3 linked regions of the Homo sapiens genome follow. The protein of the gene in region 2 interacts with the protein of the main gene of each other region in a pairwise test. Each region holds a gene or a part of one and is shown on either strand. Other genes may lie near its edges.

Region 1 (3,500 bases), on a different chromosome or scaffold from region 2:
ATTATGATGAAATCATTAGTCTTCTCACTGAAGTGAAGATTAAGGTAACACATTCATTTGTAGTATTAAGAAGTATTGTAAAACAAAAATCTTCCCAGGCACAGTGGTTCAGGCCTATAATCCTAGCACTTAGGGAGGCTGAGGCAGGAGGAAGGAGATCACTTGAGGCCAGTAGCTCAAGACCAGCCTGGGCAACATAGTGAGACCCCCTGTCTGTCTGTTGGTCTGTCATGTTCGTTTGTTCTCTCTCTCAAGACATAGGGTCTTGCTGTATTGCCCAGGCTAGTCTTGAACTCGGGCCTCAAGTGATTCTCCCACCTCGGCCTCCCAAAATGCTGGAAAGGCATGAGCCACTCTGCCTGGCCCGAGACCCTGTCTCTTAAAAAAAAAAAAAAAAAAAATTCTAGGCCCAGTGCGGTGGCTCATGCCTGTAATCCCAGCACTTTGGGAGGGCAAGGCAGGCAGATCACCTGAGGTTAGGAGTTAGAGACCAGCCTGGGCAGCATGGTGAAACCCTGTCTCTACTAAAAATACAAAATTAGCCAGGTGTGGTGGCGCATGCCTGTGATCCCAGCTACTTGGGAGGCTGAGGCATGAGAATCACTTGAACATGGGAGGCAGAGGTTATAGTGAGCCAAGATCGCGCCATTGCACTCCAGCCTGGGCAACAAGAGCGGAAACTAGATCTCAAAAAAAAAAAAAAAAAAAGATATAATAGCAGTTGCAGTTTGAGTGCTTACTATGAGCCAAGTTTCATTTAATCTTCACAATAACCTTCTGAGTTAAGTGTCATTGTCCTCACTTTGTAAATTAGGAAACTTGAGGCTTTACTAGGTTAAGTTGTACTGGGAACTGTGCTGTAACCACATAGCACACGTCTCTAAATGGGGACTTACAATTAGTTTGAACTAATATAGGCCAAGCCAGGGGTCAGCAGACCTTTTTAATTATTTTTTTTCAGATGGGGTCTTGCTTTGTTGCCCAAGCTGGTCTTGAACTGCTGGACTTAAGCCATCTTCCCGCCTCAGCCTCCCTAGCAGCGGGGACTATAGGCATGCACCATCACCCCTGGCCAGTAGTCCTTTTCTGCGAAGGTCTTAACCAAACGTTTTTGGTTTTGTGGGCCATACAGTCTCTGTCCCAGTTGCTCATTACTCAGTTTTGCTGTTGTAGCACAAAAGCAGCCATAGATAATAGGTAAGTGAATGAATGTGTCTATTTCAATAAGACTTTATGGACACTGGAATTTGAAGACTTTTTTCTTTTTATTCATTACTTCCTGCACAGTGATAATTTCTTTTGGGCTGGGGGGACAGGTTCTCACTATGTGCCCAGGCTGAGTGCAGTGGTGCAGTCGTAGCCCACAACAGCCTTGAACTCCTGGGTTCAAGCAGTCCTCCTTCCTCTGCCTCCTGAGTAGCTGGGATTACAGGTGTGCACCACCACACCTGGCTAATTTTTAAATTTTTTGTAGAGACGGGTCTCACTATGTTGCCCAGGCTGGTCTCAAACTCCTGGCCTCAAGCAGTCTGCCCACATAGGCATCGCAAAGTGCTGGGATGACAGGCATGAGTCACTGCACCTGGTTGGAATTTGAATTTAATATAATTTTTACATGTCTCAAAATATTATTCTTCAGATATTTTTAACCTTTTAAAAATGTGAAATTCATAGGCTGGGCACAGTGGCTCACGCCTGTAATCCCAGCACTTTGAGAGGCTCATGCGGGTGGGTCACCTGAGGTCAGGAGTTAGAGACCAGCCTGACCAACATGGAGAAACCATGTATCTACTAAAAATACAAAATTAGCCGGGCATGGTGGCCCATGCCTGTAATCCCAGCTACTCGGGAGGCTGAGGCAGGAGAATCGCTTGAACCCAGGAGGCTGAGGTTGTGGTGAGCTGAGATCACGCCATTGCAATCCAGCCTGGGCAACAAGAGCGAAACGACGTCTCAAAAAAAAAAAAAAAAAAACAGCGAAATTCATTCTTAGCTCAAAGGCAGTACAAAAACTGACGGCAGGCCAGATTTGGCCCACACGCTATAGTTTGCAGCCCCTGTGCTAAATCATAAAAGTATTTTTTCCTGGAAGGTCATAGTTATTCATACTGTGAATATTATTTAAGAGAGCATTGAAGATTGTTTTTATATTAAAATGGAACCCGTTACCTTATGGAATAAAACCCAGAATTTAATTTTCAAGATAAAACTTGGAGGCGGGGGCCGGGCGTGGTGGCTCACGCCTGTAATCCCAGCACTTTGGGAGGCCAAGGTGGGCGGATCACGAGGTCAGAAGTTCGAGACCATCCTGGCTAACACAGTGAAACCCTGTCTCTACTAAAAATACAAAAAATTAGCCGGGTGTGGTGGCAGGTGCCTGTAGTCTTAGTTACTCGGGAGGCTGAGGCAGGAGAATGGCATGAACCCAGGAGGCGGAGCTTGCAGTGAGCAGAGCTCATGCCACTGCACTCCAGCCTGGGCGACAGAGCGAGACTCCGTCTCAAAAAAAAAACAAACAAAAAAAAAAACAAAAAAAACTTGGAGACGGCTGTGGTGGCTCACATCTGTAATCCCAGCACTTTGGGAGGTTGAGGCAGGCGCGTCACCTGAGATCACGAGTTCGAGACTAGCCTGGCCAATGTGTTGGAACCCCGTCTCTACTAAAAATACAAAAAAAATAAAAAATTAACCAGGCGTGGTCGCACTCCTGTGTTCCCAGCTACAGGGGAGGCTGAGGCAGGAGAATAGCTTGAACCTGGGAGGAAGAGGTTGTAGTGAGCCGAGATCGCGCCACTGTACTCCAGCCTAGCGACAGAGCAAGACTCTGTCTCAGAAACAAAAACAAAAAAACTTGGATTCTAAAGATACGTTGTTCTGTAGATGGTCTCTGGACCGTACTTTCCTCCTTTCTCCTCAATTTCATTTAGAGCATAAAAGCACTTTCTTAGGCTGTTTGAAGCACTTGGATTGGAAATGTTGCCTGCAGTAACCTGTATAAACATCAATATATCAATAACAGATTATTAGTGCAAAATTTAAATGTCCAAAAACTGAAAGGGAATAATGATCGGTGACTGGGTCTATGAAATTACAAAAGTAAAGCCTAAGGGAGATGGCAAGCTTTCCTATTCTGCTACCCTTGTCAGCTGATGTCTTGGTAGAATTAATAAAGTACTCTTTTTAAACTCAAAAACATCTGTTTTGAATAATACTTTTTTTTTTAACACCCTACCTTTGAGGTAACTATTGTTAATAGTTTGTGTATATCCTTCTGGAATTCTTCTATTCCTGTAGACCTTGCAGATACTTTTTTTTTTTCTACTTGCAGTTATTTTTATTTTTTGTTTTTTGAGAGTGTCTTGCTCTCTCACCCTGGCTGGAGTGTGGCGGTGTGACGATAGCTCAACCTCCTGGGCTCAAGCAATCCTCCCACCTCAGCCTCCCAAGTAGCTGGAACTATAGGCATGCGCAACCAAGCCGAAATACTTTTTTTTTTTTTT
Region 2 (3,500 bases):
ACTGCCTATCTTTCTAGGTTGATACAAAGATAAAACGAGGATAATGAGCACAAAGAAGTTGGCTACTTAGTAAACTCCAAAGTGGTAACACTTATTTTTCTTATGTTATTGTATGATTAAATGAATATCCTAGTGGTTTAAGGCTAAGGCAAAAGAATCAGAAAGTAGTTGACTGCAGTGGTCTAGGCTCAGAGATACTAAAATGACGGAAATATTGGTTCCAGTACTTTAAAACAGGAGTAGAATTTGACCTTTCTCTTGCCCTTTAATTTCTTTGAAACTTTTTCTCTTTGAAGCTACTTGAAGGTGGAGAGTAGGCAATTTTATGTAAAATAAAATTACTGCTAATAAAAAGACAAATGTCTATGACTCCTGAGGTCAGGAGTTCGAGAATAGCCTGGCCAACATGATGAAACCCCGTCTCTGCTAAAAAATACAAAAATTAGCTGGGCTTGGTGGCACACGCCTGTTATCCCAGCTACTCAGGAGGCTGAGGCTGGAGAATCGCTTGAACCCGGGAGGCAGAGGTTGCAGTGGACTGAGATCACACTACTGCACTCTAGCCTGGGCGACAGAGCAAGACTCTGTCTCAAAAAAACAAAAACAAAAACAAACAAACTTATGAGCAATCTTTACCAGGATAGTAATTAATGAAGAAAATTTTCTGAAAGAAAAACAATTATATGACCCAGTGATTTCTAAGCACCATCTTCGAGTAGAGACTTTCAAACTTTTTTGACCAGGACTCTTATTAAGAAATATTTTATATTATAACCCAGAACACACATGCATATGTATATATGTTTGTGCATTTATGAGATACACAAATACCTAAAATAATAATTTCACAAAACACTATGTATCCTTGCTCTATATAGTGACATACAATTATTTTTAAACCTATTTCATTAAAAGACAAAACAAAAAAGCCTGGGAACAGATTTTGTGGGTTATAAAATCTATGTGGTGGGTTGTGACACACCACATAGATTTTATGACCCACAAATGAATAATAACCTGTAGAATAAAATATTTTTGTTTTAAGTAAAATTGTTGTAATCCATTGCAAAAATAACCCTACTCTATTCTGTTTGTTGTTTTTTGTTTTTGTTTTTGTTTTTTTGAGAAGGAGTCTTGCTCTGTTGCCCAGGCTGGAGTACAGTGGCACAATCTCAGCTCACTGCAACCTCCGCCTCCTGGGTTCAAGCAATTCTCCTGCCTCAGCCTCCTGAGTAGCTGGTATTACAGGCACCCACTACCATGCCAGGCTAATTTTTGTATTTTTAGTAGAGACAGGGTTGTACCATGTTGGCCAGGCTGGTCTCGAACTCCTGACCGCAGATGATCCACCCGCCTTGGCCTCCCAATGTGCTGGGATTACAGGCATTAGCCACCGCGCCCAGCAACCCTACACTATTCTTAAGGTGTTGACATGCATTGTGAAATTAAATAACTAAGAATAGGGTATTTTATTAGTCTGTTCTCAAGCTGCTACTAAAGACATACCCAAGACTGGGTAATTTATAAAGGAAAGAGGTTTAATTGACCCACAGTTCAGCATGGCTGGGGAGGCCTCAGGAAACTTACAATCATGGTGGAAGGGGAAGCAAACATGTCCTTCTTCACATGCAGCAGCAGGAGAAGTGCCGAGCAAAAGGGGGAAAAGCCCCTTATAAAACCGTCAGATCTCATGAGAACGCACTGTCACCAGAATAGCATGAAGGTACCTGCCCCCATAATTAAATTGTCTCCTACCGGGTCCCTCCCACGACACATGGGGATTATGAGAAATTGGGAACTATAATTCAAGATGAGATTTGGATGGGGACACAGCCAAACCATATCAGGTATTTAAATTACAAGTGAACACTGATCACATTACAACCCGAAGAAAAATTAGATTCATATTGTGATTATTGGTTATATTTATCAAAGGGGAAACAAACTACTGGCATGGGACAGCATCCTTCCGGATAACCTGCACACATAATCCTCTCCATAAAGTTCTGACATCTTTGGTTTGGTTACCTTCTGTAATCACTACCCCAGGAAATGTACAGAGGATTTTTTTCCTCTAAAGACAGAATCTGCAAATTCATGTTTTCCCCCACTTTTTTTTTTTTTGAGACGGAATCTCACCCTGTCGCCCAGGCTGGAGTGCAACAGCACGATCTCAGCTCACTGCTTCCCAGGTTCAAATGATTCTCCCCTCAGCCTCCTGAGTAGCTGGGATTACAGGCACCCGCTACCATGCCTAGCTAATTTTTGTATTTTTTTGGTAGAGACAGGGTTTCACCATGTTGGCCAGGCTGGTTTCGAACTCCTGACCTCGTGATCTGCCTGCCTCAGCCTCCCAAACTGCTGGGATTACAGGTGTGAGCCACCACGCCCAGCCTTCCTCCACTTTTCTTGGTGCGACTCACCACCACTGTGACTACCATACTATCTTTTTCTGTCATAACTTTTCATACACCATTCATTCACTTGGCAGATATTTATTCAGAGCCTACCAGCAAATATATATTCAGAGCCTACCATATTCCATGTACTGTTCTAGGCACTGGGGATACAGCTGCAATTATAACGAAGTCCCTAGTCTCATGGAATTTACATCCTAATAACAGTATTAATAATAGCGGACATTTATAGTGCTTTTAACGTGCCAGGTATTGTTACAGATGCTTTATATATATTAACCCATTTAATCCTCAAAACAACCATGAATAAGGTGCTATTATTACCCCCATATCACAGATGAGAAAACTGAGATATGAAAAGTTTAAGTTACTAGTCCAAAGTTCAAGTCAGTTACAGATAGTAAGCAGTGAAGCTGCAATTCAAACCCAACAAATCTGACATCAGAATTTACAGTCTCCACTGCTACAACACTAACTTCTGTTGGGGAAAAGAGGGGCCAGGATGAGGAAAACGGGTCAGAGGAAACAGATAATAATTAAGTATTTGTGAAGTAGTGATAAATGCTATAGAGAAAATAAAGGTAAGGAGAGAGAGAGTAAGGGGAAAGAAAGGTTGCTATTTTATAGAGTCAGGGAAGGCCTTGATAAGGTAATGGTTGAACAGACCTGAAGGAAGTGAGGAGCAAGTCACATGGCTATCTGGAGAAAGACTGTTCCATGCAAAGGTAACTGCCAAGTGCAAATTTTTGCAGGTGGGAACACACCTGGATTCTTCAGGTAATAGCTAGTTGAACAATGGCTGGAACAAAGAAAACAAAAGGGAAAGTAACAGGAGATAAAGCAGGGAGCTTGGGAACTGATCATGAAAGGCAGTGGTAAGGGCTCTAACTTGTATTCTATGAGATATGGAAACCACTGGGGATTTTTGAGCCAAGGGGTAACAAAATTTTACTTCCATTTAACACAAAAGCATAACTCTAGCCGCTGTGTCAATGACCTTGGGGTTAAGTGGAGGCAGAGAGGGATGCTATGATAATCATCCAGGGAAGAGATCATCATGGCTTGAAACATGATCTGCTGAAT
Region 3 (3,500 bases), on a different chromosome or scaffold from region 2:
ATTGGCCAGGCTGGTCTCAAACTCCTGACCCCGGGTGACCCACCCACCTCGGCCTCCCAAAGTGCTGGGATTACAGGCATGAGCCACTGCACCCGGCAATAATTCCTCTCTTTAGAGACTTAATAGTTATAGCCCCAGCCACTCTGGAGGCCGAGGCAGGAGGATTGCTTGAGCCTAGGAGTTCCAGTCCAGCCTAAGCAACAGAGCAAGACCCCATCACTAAAACAATACAAAAACAAGAATTTTAGAAATAAAAACTTAATAATTACATTTACAACCAAAAACAATGAAGATGTTTAAATCCTCATCACTAGCAACCCTGTTAAGAATCATAGTAATGACTGGGTCTGTAAGGGAGCACCGCCTGCTGAACATGGCTCAGGGCAGTATTTTCTGGACCAAGAATCAGGTCTCATGCTTTGAGACTGTCCCAGGATGTCTAGTGCCAGCTACCCCAGGCAGGTCATCTGGTGTGAATGTTGACTCTTCCTGCACCAAGTCTCAGACCTGCCCCACCCTCCTCCCCACTCTGGGTCTCCTGATCTTGGCTCACTGCAATCTCCGTCTCCCAGGTTCAAGCGATTCTCCCACCTCAGCCTCCCGAGTATCTGGGATTACAGGCGTGAGCCACCGTGCCTGGCCTACAAAACCTAGTTCTAACACAATCACTCCTTAAATATGGTGGAACACTTGAAGCTTGATATCTAGTTTGGATTCAAAAGCTTCATTTCCCATATTATGCAAAACTGGTGGTTGTGATCTCCAGAATGTACTGTTCCTCCTACTAGCTCTAATTTTTCTCCCTGACAGGTGGTCATCAGGTAAATCACAAGTGAAAAGGCCGCACCATAAGGTGTACTTAGGGCACTATTGCCGCCTAGTAGTATGAATATTTAGGAAAGAGTACTGGTCCTGTCTGTCCCTACTTCACCTATTGACTTTGGAAAAACCTATGTCTATCTTCCAGTCAAGTTGACAATATCTAAAGGCAGCTCAGTTTTTTTCTAAGAAAGGCCACATAAAATAGGCATGTTTGGTTCCTGAAACTGATAAGCAGTTCTTGGGTGATTATCACACTCAAACCTCTCTCTCTTCTTTCGAGACTAGATCGTCCTGGCCTTCTAAACGTAGGACACATTGAAAAAATGCAGGAGGGTATTGTACATGTGCTCAGACTCCACCTGCAGAGCAACCACCCGGACGATATCTTTCTCTTCCCAAAACTTCTTCAAAAAATGGCAGACCTCCGGCAGCTGGTGACGGAGCATGCGCAGCTGGTGCAGATCATCAAGAAGACGGAGTCGGATGCTGCGCTGCACCCGCTACTGCAGGAGATCTACAGGGACATGTACTGAGTTCCTTCAGATCAGCCACACCTTTTCCAGGAGTTCTGAAGCTGACAGCACTACAAAGGAGACGGGGGAGCAGCACGATTTTGCACAAATATCCACCACTTTAACCTTAGAGCTTGGACAGTCTGAGCTGTAGGTAACCGGCATATTATTCCATATCTTTGTTTTAACCAGTACTTCTAAGAGCATAGAACTCAAATGCTGGGGGTAGGTGGCTAATCTCAGGACTGGGAAGATTACGGCGAATTATGCTCAATGGTCTGATTTTAACTCACCCGATGTTAATCAATGCACATTGCTTTAGATCACATTCGTGATTTACCATTTAATTAACTGGTAACCTCAAAATTCGTGGCCTGTCTTCCCATTCACCCCGCTTTTGACTATTGTGCTCCTTTATAATTCTGAAAACTAATCAGCACTTTTTAACAATGTTTATAATCCTATAAGTCTAGATGTATCCAAAGGTGAAGTATGTAAAAAGCAGCAAAATATTTATTTCAAAGACTTCACTTCTGTTTCCTGAATCTAAAGAAAGACAACATGCTGCTTTTTAATCATAGGATGGAGAATTTTAAAGAACTGTTTGGGCCAGGCACAGTCGCTCATACTTGTAATCCCAGCACTTTGGGAGGCCGAGGCGGGTGGATCACAAGGTCAGCAGATCGAGACCATCCTGGCCAACATGGTGAAACCCTGTCTCTACTAAAAATACAAAAATTAGCCGGGTGTGGTGGCACATGCCTGTAATCCCAGCTACTCGGGAAGCTGAGGCAGGAGAATTGCTTGAACCAGGGAGTTGGAGGTTGCAGTGAGCTAAGACTGCACCACTGCACTCCAGCCTGGTGACAGAACGAGACTCTGTCTTAAAAACAAACAAACAAAAAAAAAATCTGTTAGATAAGCTATCAAAATGCAGCTGTTGTTTTGTTTTTGGCTCACTGTTTTCGTGGTTGTAACTAATATGTGGAAAGGCCCATTTCCAGGTTTGCGTAGAAGAGCCCAGAAAACAGAGTCTCAAGACCCCCGCTCTGGACTGTCATAAGCTAGCACCCGTGGTAAGCGGGACGAGACAAGCTCCCGAAGCCCGCCAGCTTCCTGCTCCACTCAGCTCCGTCCAGTCAACCTGAACCCACCCAGTCCAGCTGTCTGTGGGAATGGTGGTGTTCTTAGGGACAGACTGACACCTTACTTGTCAGTGTTCCTCCGGGCCCCATTTGGCAGCTCCCGTATCTTTTGTTATGTTGCTTTTAAAGATATGATGTTTTATTGTTTTAACTCTTGGTGACAGTAGATGCTCTCTGGAGCGCAGACGAGGCACATGTGTCTTCATAGCCTGGGCTGGGTGGGAGCCAGTCACCCTGCGGATCGAGAGAGGGGGTAGAGTCTTCTTCAAATGGCAGTTTTACTTCAAATGGCAGATTTCACAAGAGTTGGTTATTTTTTACAATGGTTTAGGTTGTTAAGTCTCCTTTGTATGTAAGGTAGTTTTTTCAACATCTAAAATTTTTGTTTTAGCCTTCAAAACCAACTTACCAACCTCAGTCCAGCTGGGAAGGCAGCGTTGATTATGGTAGTTTGTCAAGAATATATGGACCTGGAAACACTTTCTCTCTCTGTCCACCTGGTAGATAAATTGTCCTGTTGAGAATTTTTAGATCTGGACTGGAACTGCCAGGACCACCGCCTCCAGGGAGTCGCTGGGCACCTGGAGGTATCGTCGATGCCTCTCCCCCATCTTTAGAAAATTTGGCTCTTCTGAGGTCATTATTATTTTAAGAATGATTAGGATTGATAAGGGTCCCATGACCAGCATTATGAAAATGCGAGAGTGGGAAGGACACAGTGTGAGACTTCCACTAGAAAAAAGTGAAAGTTAGGGTTAGGACATCCTTTTTTAAAAATTACAAATTTAGTCCGTTTTGGTTTTTGTAATCAGGCTAGGCACAGTGGCTCACACATGGAATCCCAGCACTTTGGGAGGCCGAGGTGGGAGGATCACTTGAGCCCAGGAGTTCGAGACCAGCCTAGGCAACATAGCAAGACCCTGTCTGTACACAAAATTTAAAAATTAGTTCATCGGGGTGGCACACATCAGTAGTCCCAGCTACTCTGCAGGCTGAGGTGGGAGGATTGCTTGAACCCAGG

Evidence for each region. Proteins that work in one complex are often made in the same cells at the same time.
Region 1: the proteins of ZSCAN23 (region 2) and TULP3 interact in a two-hybrid assay, tested with the Homo sapiens proteins (one large-scale study listed by BioGRID and IntAct).
Region 3: the proteins of ZSCAN23 (region 2) and PPARA interact in a two-hybrid assay, tested with the Homo sapiens proteins (one large-scale study listed by BioGRID).

The regions. Positions count from the first base shown.
Region 1 is NC_000012.12:2,897,391-2,900,890, forward strand, and holds part of TULP3 (tubby-related protein 3), read left to right. Parts: intron 1-3,500. UniProt on the Homo sapiens protein: Negative regulator of the Shh signaling transduction pathway: recruited to primary cilia via association with the IFT complex A (IFT-A) and is required for recruitment of G protein-coupled receptor GPR161 to cilia, a promoter of PKA-dependent basal repression machinery in Shh signaling.
Region 2 is NC_000006.12:28,436,992-28,440,491, forward strand, and holds part of ZSCAN23 (zinc finger and SCAN domain-containing protein 23), read right to left. Parts: exon of another isoform or gene 3,084-3,500; intron 1-3,083. UniProt on the Homo sapiens protein: May be involved in transcriptional regulation.
Region 3 is NC_000022.11:46,234,026-46,237,525, forward strand, and holds part of PPARA (peroxisome proliferator-activated receptor alpha), read left to right. Parts: intron 1-1,107; coding exon 1,108-1,355; 3' UTR 1,356-3,500. UniProt on the Homo sapiens protein: Ligand-activated transcription factor. Key regulator of lipid metabolism. Activated by the endogenous ligand 1-palmitoyl-2-oleoyl-sn-glycerol-3-phosphocholine (16:0/18:1-GPC). Activated by oleylethanolamide, a naturally occurring lipid that regulates satiety.